5 separate regions of the Homo sapiens genome follow, and all the other regions are reported to be linked to region 4. The links are microRNA targets in miRTarBase. Many come from high-throughput screens and were not tested one by one. Region 4 holds a microRNA gene; each other region holds the end of a gene's coding sequence.
What was found. The annotated mature microRNA hsa-miR-4446-5p reads AUUUCCCUGCCAUUCCCUUGGC and lies in region 4 at 1,945-1,966, opposite strand. An mRNA with a match to its seed (bases 2 to 7 or 8) in the 3' UTR can be bound and repressed. Matches are read on the target gene's strand: a 7mer-m8 pairs with bases 2 to 8, a 7mer-A1 pairs with bases 2 to 7 and ends in A, and an 8mer does both.

Region 1: the mRNA of ZBTB43 is a reported target of hsa-miR-4446-5p. Seed matches in the 3' UTR shown: 7mer-m8 at 2,300-2,306.
Region 2: the mRNA of SKA2 is a reported target of hsa-miR-4446-5p. Seed matches in the 3' UTR shown: 7mer-m8 at 1,326-1,332.
Region 3: the mRNA of MCTP1 is a reported target of hsa-miR-4446-5p. Seed matches in the 3' UTR shown: 7mer-m8 at 2,323-2,329 and 7mer-m8 at 590-596.
Region 5: miRTarBase lists DCAF5 as a target of hsa-miR-4446-5p. Seed matches in the 3' UTR shown: 8mer at 2,652-2,659 and 7mer-A1 at 2,452-2,458.

Annotation. Positions count from the first base shown.
Region 1 is chr9:126,833,462-126,836,461 of GRCh38, reverse strand. ZBTB43 (zinc finger and BTB domain containing 43) reads right to left here. Exons shown (of 3, transcript NM_014007.4): 3 at 1-3,000. The coding sequence ends at 2,549. Among named protein-coding and RNA genes, the nearest start is that of ZBTB34, 26 kb to the left of the region's middle. RefSeq lists an enhancer at 2,755-3,000.
Region 2 is chr17:59,109,556-59,112,555 of GRCh38, reverse strand. SKA2 (spindle and kinetochore associated complex subunit 2) reads left to right here. Exons shown (of 4, transcript NM_182620.4): 4 at 211-2,699. The coding sequence ends at 279. All of the region lies in intron 1 of LOC124904039 (a long non-coding RNA gene), which reads right to left. Among named protein-coding and RNA genes, the nearest start is that of TRIM37, 4.2 kb to the right of the region's middle.
Region 3 is chr5:94,704,712-94,707,711 of GRCh38, forward strand. MCTP1 (multiple C2 and transmembrane domain containing 1) reads right to left here. Exons shown (of 23, transcript NM_024717.7): 23 at 1-2,856. The coding sequence ends at 2,785. Among named protein-coding and RNA genes, the nearest start is that of SLF1, 88 kb to the left of the region's middle.
Region 4 is chr3:113,593,696-113,596,848 of GRCh38, reverse strand. MIR4446 (microRNA 4446) reads right to left here and starts at 1,973; the gene lies at 1,907-1,973. The region is part of intron 10 of SIDT1 (SID1 transmembrane family member 1); the gene reads right to left.
Region 5 is chr14:69,051,189-69,054,188 of GRCh38, forward strand. It overlaps DCAF5 (DDB1 and CUL4 associated factor 5), which reads right to left. Exons shown (of 9, transcript NM_003861.3): 9 at 1-3,000. The coding sequence ends at 2,669. Among named protein-coding and RNA genes, the nearest start is that of ACTN1-DT, 73 kb to the left of the region's middle.

The sequences.
Region 1 (3,000 bases), not on the chromosome of region 4:
CTCCCAGGCTCTGGCTGCCTGATAAAAAAATCCCAATTTTTGCCAAAACCTCAAATACCACAAAACACTAAAAGAACAGATGTGAGCAACTTATTTAAGTTCTACATTTAGTAGCTGATGGACACATAAGGCTTTCAAGAAGACACTCTTCTCTTCACAACATATTAAATAAGTCCTAGCACAACTGACTGCTTCCAAAACTACCACCCAAGCGTGCCACCACTCTTGGCTGAACAGAAACTCTTCCTCATGACAAGGGCACTATGCTGATTTCAGCAGAACTGAAGGACCACGACTCTCCCAGAATATCTGTATTTTTACCTCTCAGACTTCTCCTGCAATGTCCTAATGATCATGTAAATAGTCTTCAATGAGAAACAGGACATCAAACCTTCCAAACAGGCAGAAAATGCTCTGCTAATACCATGGGAGAGGGTGATCAGTTTTTGGCAGAACAAAATGGCATCACCACCTTAGTACTGAAATTAGTAGGAGTAATAGAACAATTTCTCCTCAAATATAATGGCTAGGATCATACCTAAAACCCACTGGCCTCTACCATGAGTGAAAGAAAAGGAGACAATAGGCTTGATTGTACAATCCCCTCAGTATACGTGTGTCAGGTACACAGAGAAAAGACTGCTAACCAGTAACGTTTCAATACTAAGAGAAGCTATTAATGTGGCAAACAACCAAGAGGTAATATCTAGTTTCTAGGTTTAAAAAAAAACAATATATATATATATTTATAATAAAGTTTTAAATACAAAGTGCTTTTTATATATCGAGAATGATACAGTGTTGTGAATAAATCCCTGTTTGTAATCTTGCTTACAAGAGTTAACTGGTAAATAAGTATTTTCTTTCCTCTTTCCAGACAATGTTCAACAAGTAAACACCCTGGTGTTAGGAGCTTGAGAATCAGAGGCCATTGCCAGCAATGTCTATTACATTACAGCAAAGCCAAACTTTTCAAATAAAATTTCACCCCAAATCCAAGAAAAATTATTTTTATTTTAAGAAAAAAAAGTTTCTATTTAGAAGTAAATAACCCAGTACGATTGTGGAAAAGATGACATGGTAGTAGCACCCTGTCCTACCCTGGTGATAACCTCAGGTATGTTACACAGCTTAAAAGCATGTGCAATATTACCTTTCTTTTTAACCTAAATCATCTAACTGATGGGCAGAAAAGGTCTCAGAATAGTTGCTTTTCTTGTTTGTTTTTTTAATTTTTTTTTTCTGGTCGGCGTAGCTTTGTGGACTTTTAAGTTTAAGCAGCTTTATCTATAATGTGGGAGCATGGTTCTGTAGACTACCTTGCTAAACTTAGGACTCCTTTTACAAACACATTCCAGTGCTCATAAAGAACTGGTAGTATTAGCTCAGTGTACCCTCTAAAGAGTATCTCCCCCACCTTGAAAGAGTGTATTCTCAAGATTCTTCTTGGGCAGTTTTGTCCCCCTTAAGTATAACCACTCATAGAATCCTGCCTATCTGCCCTCTCACTCTGGTTGGTGGAGTGTCACCTTAGCACTCTATGAACTACTCAAGTTCACAGGGAACTCTCAGCCACAACTTGTGGCTCCTTCTCACTAAGTGTGGTCATGGACCACTCTCTTTGTAAAGCACCATAATCTAAGACAGAGCAGGGGCTGTGGCAGCCCGTGGTACCGTGGTCAGTCACAGCAGCTTGGTGTCTACCAGCCACAGAGAAGACCCCACTGTATGGAGGCTACAATTAACCAAACAGGATTTGGGAAAGCAAACCAATGAGAAATACCTATCTCTGGCACCCTAGAGAATTACAATTAGATAAAATTGTCCAAACTCAATGTTAGAACTAAAATACAAAACACTGCCTTATCAAGAGTCTGAAACACCTTGTGACAGTAGTGGCATCTTACAGAAACTGACAAGGGCACTATGTCAGCCTTGTACCGTAAATTATCTGTTTCATATTTAGAAAGTCACTCTCTTAGCATCTCCATAGTTTTAGTTAAAATATCCTTTAGAAAGACTAAAACCAGACAACAGAGCTCTGTTAACCAATTTCTCATCCTAGGAATCACATTATTTCTAGCTTTTATATAAGTAGCACTTCCTTCAGTGAAATAGCTACCAAAACAAATCCACATTACCTAAGTATCTATAGCAAGAGCAAAATAAAATTTCAGCATGACCTTGTAATAATGAGTGATCCAAAGCTGCTGCCACCCAAAATGGAACTGGTGGGTGGAGTCCAGTTCCAAGTGCAGGTGTCTCTGTCCACCTGTTTCGATCACAACCAGTCAGAAGGTTTCCCTTGCCAGCTGGGCGGTGGGTTAACTCACCCCATTACCCATTCCAGGCCAGGACTGGAACACACAAATTTGAGGAATTAGATTTTTTTAATTGGCCTACTTAGAGCTGGTCTTTCAGAAATATCTTCCTTTTTTTTTTTAAGCTTCTCTCATAATAGCAAGTAGCACGCATCATCTGTGCCCAGATTTGCATTAATTACCATAGTTTATTTTTGTGCATGCCACTCAAGGGCCAGATCCTATTTTTAGTTAGCCTCAGTTGTATTCTGCTCAGCCTTTGCAGCTTCGTAGGACTTAGTACAAGAAGTCACATGCCGGTGGAAACTGTCCCTCCACATAAACCTCTTTGCACAGATATTACACTCATACGGCTTTATGCCTGTGTGAATTTTCATGTGGCCCACGAGATGGTGCTTCATTTTGAATTTCTTACCGCAGACCCCACAGCCGTAAGGCCGAAGACCGAGGTGCATGCTCATGTGCCGATCTCTCTGACTCTTGTGAGTGAAACTTTTCCCACACTGACAAGGATACAGCTTGTCAGTGGCTGAGAATCCTAAGTGGGAAGCTTCTTCTTTAATCCCTGTTACCATTTCAATATTCTCACTGTAACCTGCTGCGAGGGCAGCCTCCTGTCTGTGCCCAATTAGATTCCCATCTGACCTCTCTCCGGAAAACTCTTCCATGGAAGAGCCAT
Region 2 (3,000 bases), not on the chromosome of region 4:
AATTGCAAGTTCTTTAGAAGCTCAAACATCATAGGACCTTGTATATAAATAGCCAAGTATCTGTTTTTTCCCTTGCCTTTCTAAATCTGTGATTACATACATAGTATAAGCTTAGGGAAACATTTATTGGTGTGACAATGCAGAAGTTAACTAAACTGATTTAAGTCTTTGAAAGTTTTTGAAATAAAGATTTTATCATTTATTTTCTAGCTGTCACCACTGACTAAAGAAGAGAAAACTGCGGCAGAGCAATTCAAATTTCACATGCCAGATTTATGAAGAAATGGACTTGGAAAGGAAATTCTAACAGAGAAGAGCTTAATTCCGGAGAAATTTAGGAAGATGTCTTGTTAACCCTTGATGTCTAGAGATTGGGGGCTGGTGAAGGGGGTTTGGCTTCAATGACTGGATAATGATATCTTTCATGAGAGAGATTATAAGAAGAAGGGCAGATAATATATGAATAAAGTTCAGCCAAAAGGATCAAATGAGAATAAAACGATTTAAATATATGTACACACGCATGCACACACACACTTAGTCTTGTAATTTCAGGCCAGAAATTCTCAACACTATTTTGCATCTGTTTTCTTTTTCTAAGTCATGATAATATAGATGTTCTGGTCTATCATAAAAGAATGTTTATGTACATTTCAGTCATTCGGTATGTGGCTTTGTAAATTAAAGTATAGGCAAAACATTTGTGTTATACATGATATATAATTTCATTTTGTAAATGTTGATTGCACATGTGGTCACATTATTGTTGAGACTGCTTTTATGTGACCTGTAGTCTCCCACAGAACCTAAAGTAATAAGCTGGCTTTTCTGTGATAGCCACGTTTGCGTATTTCTTTCCCTATTTCCCTTGCCTGCTAATGTTGAACAGCATGAACTTGCTTTCTGATGCTGTTTTAGACTGTCCCTGTTGTATCTCAATAATATCTTTGTTTTCCTTCAGCCTTTATTACTATAATTGTTCATTCTACATGAAAGCTAGGAAACTGAAATTAGAAGAGCACTTATCTGCTACTTGCCAGTTTTGCGTGAGTGTGTTATATGTATGTGTCAATTTCCCTTTAAAATAACTATTTATTTTAAAATAACTATTGGCAATAAGGAAACTGTTCAAAGTAGAGGCAGATCTTGATAGAAAGATGTTAATCACAGGGTTGTTTATAATAGCAATATACATACACATTTGGCTAGTACTAGGTGAATAGGAAAATAAATCATGCTGTATGTATACAATAAGAGGTCAAGTTGCCAATAAATTATTACTGTTAATGTTCTGGGAAATGCTGAAACTATGCTAAGTGGGGGAGAGGGAAAGCAGGTATTGCAGTTTTGTAGTGAAGATTGGGCTTTGGAGTCATATCTGAGATGTAAGTAGCAGCTTTTAAATTCTAGCTATGACCCTGTGCAGATCACTTAACTTTTGAGTGTCAGGATGTTTGGAAGGACAAGACAGGAAAGTGTTTTAATACAGGGTTCAGTATTTAGTAAGCCTTCAATAAGTGATATTACATACATGTAATAAAAACTAAGCATTGAAAGGACTAGGAAAAATGCATCAAATGTTAGTTCTGCAGGTTATAGAATTATACTTTTATGTAATTTTAAAATTTCAGTTATGAACATGTTTGTCCATTAACAAACTTATAATAGCTGAAAAACAGGGTTGTGAGAACAGCTTCAGTTAAAATTGTCCTGTCTAGTTTGAATATTTCAAGAACAGAAAGCCTTTTTTTTTTTTTTTTTTTTTTTGAGACGGAGTCTCACTCTGTTGCCCAGGCTGGAATGCAGTGGTACGCTCTCAGCTCACTGCAACCTCCACCTCCCAGGTTCAAGCAGTTCTCTGCCCCACCCTCCCGAGTAGCTGGGATTACAGGCGCCCGCCACCACGCCCGGCTATTTTTTTGTATTTTTAGTAGAGATGGGGCTTCACCATCTTGACCAGGCTGGTCTTTAACTCCTGATGGTGATCCACCCACCTCGGCCTCCCAAAGTGCTGGGATTACAGGCATGAGCTACCGTGCCTGGCCCCCTTTTTTTTAATTACAGAGAAATAAGTTACACCTTAGTATCAGATATTAATTTTCTTCAGTGTTCAGGCAATTAGTATTTAGAAAGCTCTTGTCATGAGATGGCTCTGGGATGTGATGATGATTGTTGGGATTGAAAAAACGGTAGTATCATGGAGAGATCATAATAAATTCTTAGTATTAAAAGTGGTTTTGCTTTCAGTTAGGGAGAAAAATTAGATTGTACTATTTTTCCTCTATGATTTCCTTCAGTTATCTTCCAAATGTTGTTTTTTCCCCACAGCCCCCTTAACATTGTTCTCTATGCACTTCTCAATACATTTTCATTTGTTTCTCAAGCCTCTTTGTGGATGACTCCTAAATATAACTTCTTCCACTAGCTCTAGATCCGTATTTCCAATAAAATCCCCTACCTGAATATTCAAGTTAAACATGTCCAGAATACTTACTGATTTTATTGTTAATAGCCACTATTCTGTTGTCTGGAATTAAAACCTGTATAACTAATTTGCATCCCTTTATCTTCTTAGTCAATAAAACCTACAATCCTCTTTCTAAAATGGTCATAGTATACAACCTCTACATTATCTTCACACCTCCTTAATTTAGATCTTTTGTTTCTCATTTGGATTATAATTGTTTTCTCCTATGTGACTATAGTGTCTTTATGTCTTAAGTTATAAATAATACATGTTTAAGAATTTAAAAATCACAGGCATGGCCGGGCATGGTGGCTCACGCCTGTAATCCCAGCACTTTGGGAGGTCGAGTCGGGCAGATCACAAGGTCAAAAGATGGAGACCATCCTGGCCAACATGGTGAAACCCTGTCTCTACTAAAATTACAAAAATTAGCTGGGTGTGGTGGCACGTGCCTGTAGTCCCAGCTACTCGGGAGGCTGAGGCAGGGGAATCGCTTGAACCCAGGAGGCGGAGGTTGCAGTGAGCTGAGATTG
Region 3 (3,000 bases), not on the chromosome of region 4:
GATAAATATATCACAGAGTCCTTTTAAGAATCTCCCAACTCAGATTATCCTAGTGCATATAGAATGTTCAAAAACTGATTGATTGATTGATAGGTTCTGTAGGAATTCCAGTTTTTGAACATTCTATATGCACTAGGATAATCTGAGTTGGGAGATTCAATCAATCAATCAGTTTGAGTCTGGAACAGTACCAGAATGAATGAGAAGTACTATTATGTTCTTTTTGATAAGTGGGGAAAAATTTAAAAGCACAAATACGCATTTCTTATGAATTATCACAACGAATGTCAGTAATAGTTTATGAATATAAATAATGACTCAGTGAATTTACTCACTAAAAGATACTAAAGGAATATATTTAGTAGTTCACAATATCTATAATAGTTAGCAGTCCAAGTAGATGTTTGAGTGACATTCAGTCTCTTAAGAAATATTTACATCACAGATCTCAAAATGAAGGCAAGTCAGGCAGCTCTCAAGACAGAATTGCAGCTATGTGAGAAGGGGAAAGAAATAAATAGTTAAAATTTTAACTATACATATTCTGTTTTCAGCCTGTGAATGTAGTAGTTTCTAAAAGCAATGAAGATTTCCCTGAATATCACTTTTGTGCCTCAAGCTAGTTCTTATTCCTCTGTTAATGTCATTGGTTGCTCACCCCTCCAGAGGTATTTTCATATAAGAGTCAGAGTTTCAGGAAAAAGGTCTTATTTGTTTAAACCAAATCTGTTTTTCTCCAAGTGACATATAGTTTTTAAGAATATGCACACAATCCCTCATCAATCTCTGAACCACCAAAAAAAAAAAAAAAAGGAGTGCTGATTATACGTGGGAAAGATTATTTTCTTTTGTATTTAATACAGTGAATGTGTAGTCAGCATTACCATTGAACTAAACATCTGAAATTTGATACAGTGAAACAAATTAGTCATCTGTTAATGGTTACTATCCACTAGATACATCTGAGGTTGTAGAATATCAGGCTTATAGACATTTGAGTACACATTGTCAGCACAGAACATAAAAGTCTCACATAAGGTATAATTGAAAGTTATTTCAAACAGTTATCTCATCAATAAACTTTCTGTAGTAACATCATGTTCATGGAACATTATGTTTTTAGCAACAAACAGTGATGGTATGCAGACAGAAGCATGTCATTTTAAACATGATACATTAAATAAAGCATGTTGAGGTCAAAGCCTTTCTGTAGAAAGGGAATTTAATTGACATTCAAGCATAGTATATAAACAGATCAAAATAGTTCTATTATAAGAAATAGTATTTAACAACTTATCTCTAAAATAAAAATACTTTAAAAATCAGCTTCAATGAGATTACATTTATTGTTAAAGAATCTTCCTTTAGAGTGAAATATACATTTCTTTTAGCTTTTCTATAGTTTTTCCAGTATAACCCCCACTTTTACCCCATCCAAGTTTATTATTAATAAAGTAGTGCAAAGCATTGTCTGCTGCAATTTCAACTGAGTGTAGTCCCCTACCAAGTCAGGGAAGTAAGACATTCTCAACCAACCAAATTATTTTTTCTCCAGAGTTATGCTCCCTTAGTATACCAGGGAGTGAGATATAAAAACTACTTTAAGAGTCTTGGGAATGCAATTTTTAAGTATAGATTCTATGATAATAGTGAAACATTGATAAAGGCAACCACCACCCCCAAGCAGTTTATTTTATTTTACAAAACAGGTTTTCATGCATAATCAAGAATGATTTTTTTTAATAAATGAATGTAGTGAAACACTGGCATATCACTTAGCACACTGAATTCTCTACATTAAAATTCACACTAATAACAAAATCATAGTATGAATTAAAGCATTTCAGTAATCTAATGAGAAAGCAGGTTTTTTTTTTCTCTGAGAGCACTTGAGTATTTATTAAAATATTTTTAGATGCACAGATACAATCTGACACCAAAAGCGATATGGATATAGTTTCCTAGTATTTTTGATAACTGTACTTACTGGGTTGCTAATTTGCTAACTAACTGTATAAATTAAAGTAGTGGTAGGTATAAAAATTCAGATAGGCAATCGTTTATAAACTGGCAGTATTTATGTTATGTAGTCCTGTAGAGATTTTAAGGTTTTAGATGGAATGATTGATTGAAATTCTATAAAGAAAACTTTGTAACCTTCTGAGTATTGATTCTCTTGAGGGAGTGAATGTACCTTCACTTATTAGCTTAAAATTAGCCTAAGTCATACCTAAGTAATTTGCACAGGAGTGAATGTCGGGATCTAAAGCCAGAATATATGTTAAATTGAAATGTATCCATTCCATTATTCAGGCTTTGGAATTTCCCTCCCTTTTGAAATGTATAAAACATAGAAAAGTGTAATGGATTACTTTTCAGATAAAAAATAGTCGCATTAAAAAAAAACTTTAAAATCAAATCGACATTTACAATTGATGTAGATTTAATCAGAGCACAGGTGAGTATTTAATCCACTAGTAATTAGATAAGAATATATCTTCCAGTGTTATCATTCTTATATTTGTTCTTTCAGTGTGTTATATTATTATCCACAGCTAACAAGGTTTTGACACAGCAGTAGCAAAACCTTTATCAAGTTGAGTCTGTACAATAGAAGTATATATTCAAAGACATATGCCTTTGTACACTATTTACAGATTCTCTCGATCATGATAAAAAGGCAAAATAAATAAAAAGCAGAAAGAAAGGAAATGCTGCTGAGGCTGAGGGCTTTTTCTTTTATCTTCCCAAACAGATGCTGGTCTCCTCAGTGCTGGGAGCTGGCTAGCCAAGATTGTTTTTCTTTCTTTTATATGGGCTATGAGAAGGATCTGGTTTCAGTTCTTGGTATTGCACCTGTTTAAACAGAGTTCAGAGGAAGACTGGTCAGGTGGCCACTTTCTGGCAAAGAAAGGAACAGCAAAGGAATGAGAGACGGTGCTTGGGGGAAGAAAGTGCTCACTCTAGAAGCTGTATGGGATCTGCAGCTGAGATGCAGAA
Region 4 (3,153 bases):
CTCTTGCATTTGAGAAAGTAACCTCCTCTTCTGTTGTACCCCAGTTCCTGGTGGCAACTCAAGGGGTCCCAGAGGCCTGTTGGGGAGGCTTCATTATTTTTCTCAGCTGGTAACTGAATTTCTGTAGAGGCTCTTTAACAATGATGTGAAATGTGGGGTTTCTCTCTGATAAAGCCAGTGGAGGAAATGGTTTTAGAGCACAGAGCCTTTCTTAGTACCTCTCAGATTCTCACAGATGCCCTGTCTTTGGTATTAAGGATAATTAGACAATACAGGGTCCAGTCATTCATAGTACAGTAAAAAAGTCCCTTCAAGTCCCCTGGAGCAGCTCTTTGCCAACAGTATTTCCATCTCACCCAGGCTCCAGGGTCTAATCTTCTTCTTCATCCCATGAAGTATGAAATACATTTTTTTGCTTTTTATTATAGTTGGAGCTAACATGGAGATTTTCACATACAGCTTAATTAAATCACTTCAGGCATATCAAAGAAAAACAAATGCAGAGTAGCGCACAGATTTTCTGAGTGCATCCTTCCTAACTCCAACAGAGCTGCCACCAATTTGGCAACCTGTAGGGACCTGATTCCATTTCTTCCACTTCAGTCACGTCTAAGGTGAAAGCCTTAGGCTAAGTTCCACAGATATCTAGCTCCACAATGATGTGGGCAGAGACCGTATTAAGTCTAGTGGGATCCTCTTCCCCTTTAAGAAGCTGCTTCTAGCATTTTCTCTGGATATAAGCACCCAAGGCATTTCCTGTAACTCTGAGCTCCATCGAACTTCCTGTGCCCCATGGTCATGCTGATCCTGGCCTTGGGAGAGAAAGACATTTCTGTATCCTTGTTTCTTCCCTGAATGTCTGTCACTAGCTTCCAGATATGGTCCTTACTTGCCTCTGTCTCTTGCTCCTGGTTGATTTCTCTATGCTCTGTTTGAGATGCCTAAAAAAGTCACTGGTTCTTCCCTTGGGCAGTGCTTGTCTTCTGCTCTTGGTTTAAGCATCTAGGTCTTGACTCACCAGTGGTCATGACATTGGGGGTGATGCCATCATTCCCTGTGGCCTCTCTACCTTACAAAGGTTCCTTATTTTCTTCCTATTTCAAGACTTTTGTGTGGTGAATATTCCTATTCCCTACTTCTTACCTAAGCTGGTGTGTTATTTAGGTGTCTTCATGTGTTTAGGTCCATGGTTCTCAAACAGGGGGATGTGGGGAAAGAGTTTTGCCCCCAAAAAGACATTTGGCAATGTCTGGAGGCTTTTTTTTTTTTTGAGACACGGTCTTGCTCTGTCACCTAAGTTGGAGTGCAGTGGTGCGATCTCAGCTCACTGCAGCCCCAACATCCTGGGCTCAAGCGATCCTCCCATAGCAGCCTCCGAAGTAGCTGGAGCACAGGTGCACACCACCACGCCCACCTAATTTTGTTTATTTTTTGTTTTTATGAAGACGAAGTCTTACTATGTTGCCTAGGCTGGTCTCGAACTCCTAGGCCCAAACAATCCTCCAACCTCGGCCTCCCCAAATGCTGGGATTACAGGCATGAGCAACTGCACCAAGCCTGGAGGCATTTTTAGTTGTCCCAAGGAGGGGCAACTCCTAGAATCTAGTGCACGGAAGTGAAGGATGCTATTAAACATCCTATAAGATACAGAATAGCCCCCAACAACAAAGAATTATCTGGCCTATGATGTCAATAATATTGAGTTTGAGAAACTCTGGTCTTAGAGAAGAGGACCTAATCTTAATTCTGAAAGTAGGTTTATCTGATGTGTAGGTAAATCTGTTCTTTGCAGTGACTGGTTTAACAATAAGTGTATGATTCACTCTAGGCCAATGAAACACAAGAAGTTGCTGAGGGCTTCTTAAAAGGTCCTTCCCTCTGGTGCTGCCAGGTGAAGGTGTGAGCCTTGACCCATGTCACTGCCAGCCCTGGGAGTAAATTGAAGCCAAGGGAATGGCAGGGAAATGGACCAGAGCCACTGGACTCATCAATCCTGAAGTACATCTTTTGGCTCTACTTCCAGAGCTAGGAGTCTCTTTCTTGATTAAGCAGGTTTGAGATTTTTTTTTTCTTGTTGCTGTGGTTACCTACAGCCACATGAATCTCAATGATGCATCTTTACTCTTTTTGGTCACTCATTTGTTTCCGCTTACCATCAGAAGGGTACCTCCAGCTCTTAGCTAATTTTCAGAGCCTCCCTGAACCTGGACAATGATCTGGCTCAAGTCCCAGCTTTGTCCACTTATGCTTCAATGTTCAACAGACCCTTCTGAATGCAGAATTCCTTCAATAAATATTATTATAATAAAAAGACTTCACTCATACTATAAAAAATAACAGACTAACCATTCAGAGGCTACCCAATGGGATTCAATCGATTGGATGTAGGCCTAAGTTCAACTAGGCCTAAACTAATCACAAAACTTGGAGGCACAAAACTTTTTTCCTGTAGGAAAAAAGATGACATCCAGAGAGCAGACAAATTCATTTAAACATCTGACGACTAAAAGGGAGAGGAGCATTTAGCACTTTAAAGCCACGAGAGCAGGTGTTCTTTTATAGTCTTTTATATTGACAGCTGAATGTTTATAAAACAAAGTGCTTGGGTGGCTGGAAAAACAGGCATGCTGACATTAAGGAAGACAAACATTAAAAAGAAAAAAGCAAACTCTCCAGCAAAGGGAGCAATGATCCTGCTGGAGGGGGGTAGGGGGTGAGTTAAAGTCTTTCTAAGATTCTGTGGCCTCATTTAAGTGTGGAAAACACACACCTAAACATCTGCTATGTATGACTTAAAAACCAAGTTCCACTTCATATTCCTCTTTAACCAAATTCTTGCTCTATGCCAAATAACCTATGAGCACTGAGTTTAGGTTTTTCAAAAATGAGGACATTTAAATTTTTAATTTTGTTAAAAAGATCAGGTCATTGAATTCTTTTGTTCAAACTCTCAGAGTGGAGGAAAAGGCATAGTACAATTGCTGGATAGTCAATTACTCTGGATTCCCCCAAGTTATTATACTCTTTATTATACTTGCTAGGGTCAAGTATTTCAGTTTTCTAGACACTTAAGAAAGCCTCCATCTTAGTTTGGGAAAAAGTAAACCATGTATCAGAGTTGGCACAATACATTCTTACTGTTGTTCACAAATC
Region 5 (3,000 bases), not on the chromosome of region 4:
TTATGTACAGAATGCAGGAAAAAAACATAAGAGGCACTTCCAAATAGTTCTTGATCTAATCAGTGCCATCTGTCCTGCTATTAAAAATATCTATTATGGAAGAAATTGGGTATTAAATGTGCCATCAAAGTTGGGGCCTCAATTCTAAAAGAGTTTAGGCAAAGGTACTCTAGAAGTGGTTCCTGCCAGGTTTCCAGACCCACAACCATAGACACAAAATCTCTGGAGATGAGGGTGGAGCAGCTATAAAGCAAGCATTTCTCACCCTGCTCATGTGTGTGTCTTATGGGGCCTATCACCCGGTAAGCTGAGCCTAGGATGCTGGGAAGCCTCTGCCAAGGATGGAAGGCATACTTGCTAAAAATGATCTTTCTTGGCTTCTCAAGTTAACCAGAATAAACTCTGATTTCTCTTTTGAGTACCCAAATGAGATTAAGGCTTTTAACATGAAAAGACCAAGTTCTGCATTTGGGAATTGTAACTACCAAGTAGCTAGTTCCCAAGGGAACTTTAACTACTTCTTTTCAGGAAGATATGTATCCGATTGTCCTTTGAGAAGTCAGAAGAGGCTAAGTACTTATTAAAATAAAATAAATAGAATAGAATAAAATAAAGGACTGGGTGTGCTGACTAAGAAGGGGAAGAGAAACACACACTGAGTGATCGTATTTTTTTTGTATATAAAGGATTAAAAAATTCCAATTTAATACATTTTGGAAAAGCAAATGTAAAATGACTTGGGCTTATAAAACCAGCATTTACAATTATCTGTGAATAGTCAAAGACAAATCATAGAACCAATCTGATTACAAATCCAAAGTAATTCTAATGTTGGTTACAGAATCACTTTCCCACTCCCCCAGTAAAAGTCCAGGTGTTAAGTTGTACACACCCCCATGCTACACACACTCCTTCATCTCCTTCTCAGTGTTTTCATACCCCAGCCGCATTACACACACCAGGCACATCTTCTCTTTCACAGAGCTTATCAGGATGGTATCTCCTTTTGGCTTAAACCAACCACCTTGTGTTTATAAATAACCCCCCCACCCCCAGTGCCTGAATTCATCCACATCTTCTGCCTTCATAGGCAGCCTCCCCTTGGCTCCAGTTCCAGCAGGACAGGCCTTCCTCTGAAAGGAAGCCTGGGGCAGTGAGGCCACACTAGTCAGCGTTCGGCCCTCCCTACACCAATCCCAGCTGGGCTCCTAGTTGTCTAGCACCTTTGCACTCAAGAAAGTTATATTGTTTTTCTCTCTCTTCCTCATTTCTTGCCAGTATTCTGCCTTTTCATAACATTTATGCCAACAAGATATCTGGTCATTCCCAGACCTTCCTGTTTTGCACAACCCTTCATAGATAACCGAGTGACTGCAACGCTGAAAATCTGTTGCTCTTTTCTCTTCTAAACCTGTATCTACCTCAATAAAACTGAGTCTTTTATGGGAACCAGAAGACTTAAGACTAATGGGAACCAGGAGTCATAAGCCAGAGACTCCTCCCCAACACCTTCTGACTCCTAATAGACCTACTCAATAAGAATCTGTTACCTTGAGATGCCTACTGCTCTGCAAAGTCTAGTGAGAACACCACAGCCTCTATCAACTGCAAGTCTGAGGGAAGATGCCAGTCCCACCAATTCTGACCAATGGTTCTGGGTTGAGTTAAATGAATATAGTACCACATTCTGCTCCTCACTAAGCTTCTTCGTTAACACACCTATAACAACTACTTTAGTAGCCTGAGCACAAAGCTCTGGAAAGCTGTCTTTGCCCTTCTTTCACTATGCCTCGATCGATCATGGGAGCCAAGGAAGCACCTGCTGGCCTTGTGAGTGCCTCTTAGGATCTAGCACCTAACTGGTTAAAGTCTGTTATCCATGACTAGCTCTATTTTATGGCCTTCATACAGTACATGTTGCAGCACTGCTCAATTTGCAAACAGTGAAATTTATCAGGAATCTATATTCTCTTGAATCTGATCTTAAGTGCTAAACCTCTCATTAGCATTAAAAATTCTTTTTTATAGTATGTCCACATTAAATGCTCAATAAAGAAGTGTTACTTAGAGAAAACATGGAAGATTTCTTTAAGAAAGGAACCATGCTTTCCTCTCCAGCGCAGCCAATGGGCTGAAGGCCTGTTTCCATTCTCCATTCTTCCAGCATAAATCTACAACTCACTGGCAGCACAACCTGATTTAACAGGCACCCATCATCCAGACCAGAACACCTATGGCATGTAAACAGGGTGAGATGGCAAAAAGTACAAATTCATAGGTCCTTTCTGATGGAGAACTAAAAGGAAGGTCTTATGAGACAATAAGCGCACACGTGCCATTGTGCGTACACAAGAACAAGTCGAACGTCTCAACAAAGATTTACTTCCACAGAGCCTTGCGCGGCACACTACGCTCACGTCTCACTAGAAAGGAGTCACTTGGGTTATTTTTTTTTCCCCTTTCTTAACACAGCACAAGCCAATGGCCAGCTAGACATTCAGACCCGTTGTTGAATGTTGGATAGAAGGGAGCAGCATCAGACACAAAATTTCAGGCCCTGGTTTCATGTGCCTTTAATACTTGTTTTTCCTTTCCTCTGTATTCACTAAACAATTTTTTTTTTTTTGTAAGGCTACTTTTGTAGCTTTTTGTTTTCCCTTTGTATTTATCATGTTTTTAATTTCTTCTCTGAGGAGGAATTCTCTGAATCTGTATCTTCCAATTCAATTCGTTGCCTTTTGAGGCCACTGTGGCCATGAACAGCCCTGCTACTATCTGTGGCTGGGGTGTCAGTGGGGTCCTCTCTTGTTCCAGCATTGGGGGTCTCACAGGCCATTTCAGACCCGCAACAATCTTTGTGTAGGAGTGTCCCTGTCAGGGACGAGTTATCACGGTCAGTGTCTGAGTGTCCTGGGGAAGAGTAGGCCACCACCTCCAGCTCCCCCAAGTTCTGCCCGTTATTGTGAGGGTGAGGGGGACGAGGGTGTAAGCGTCCATTGT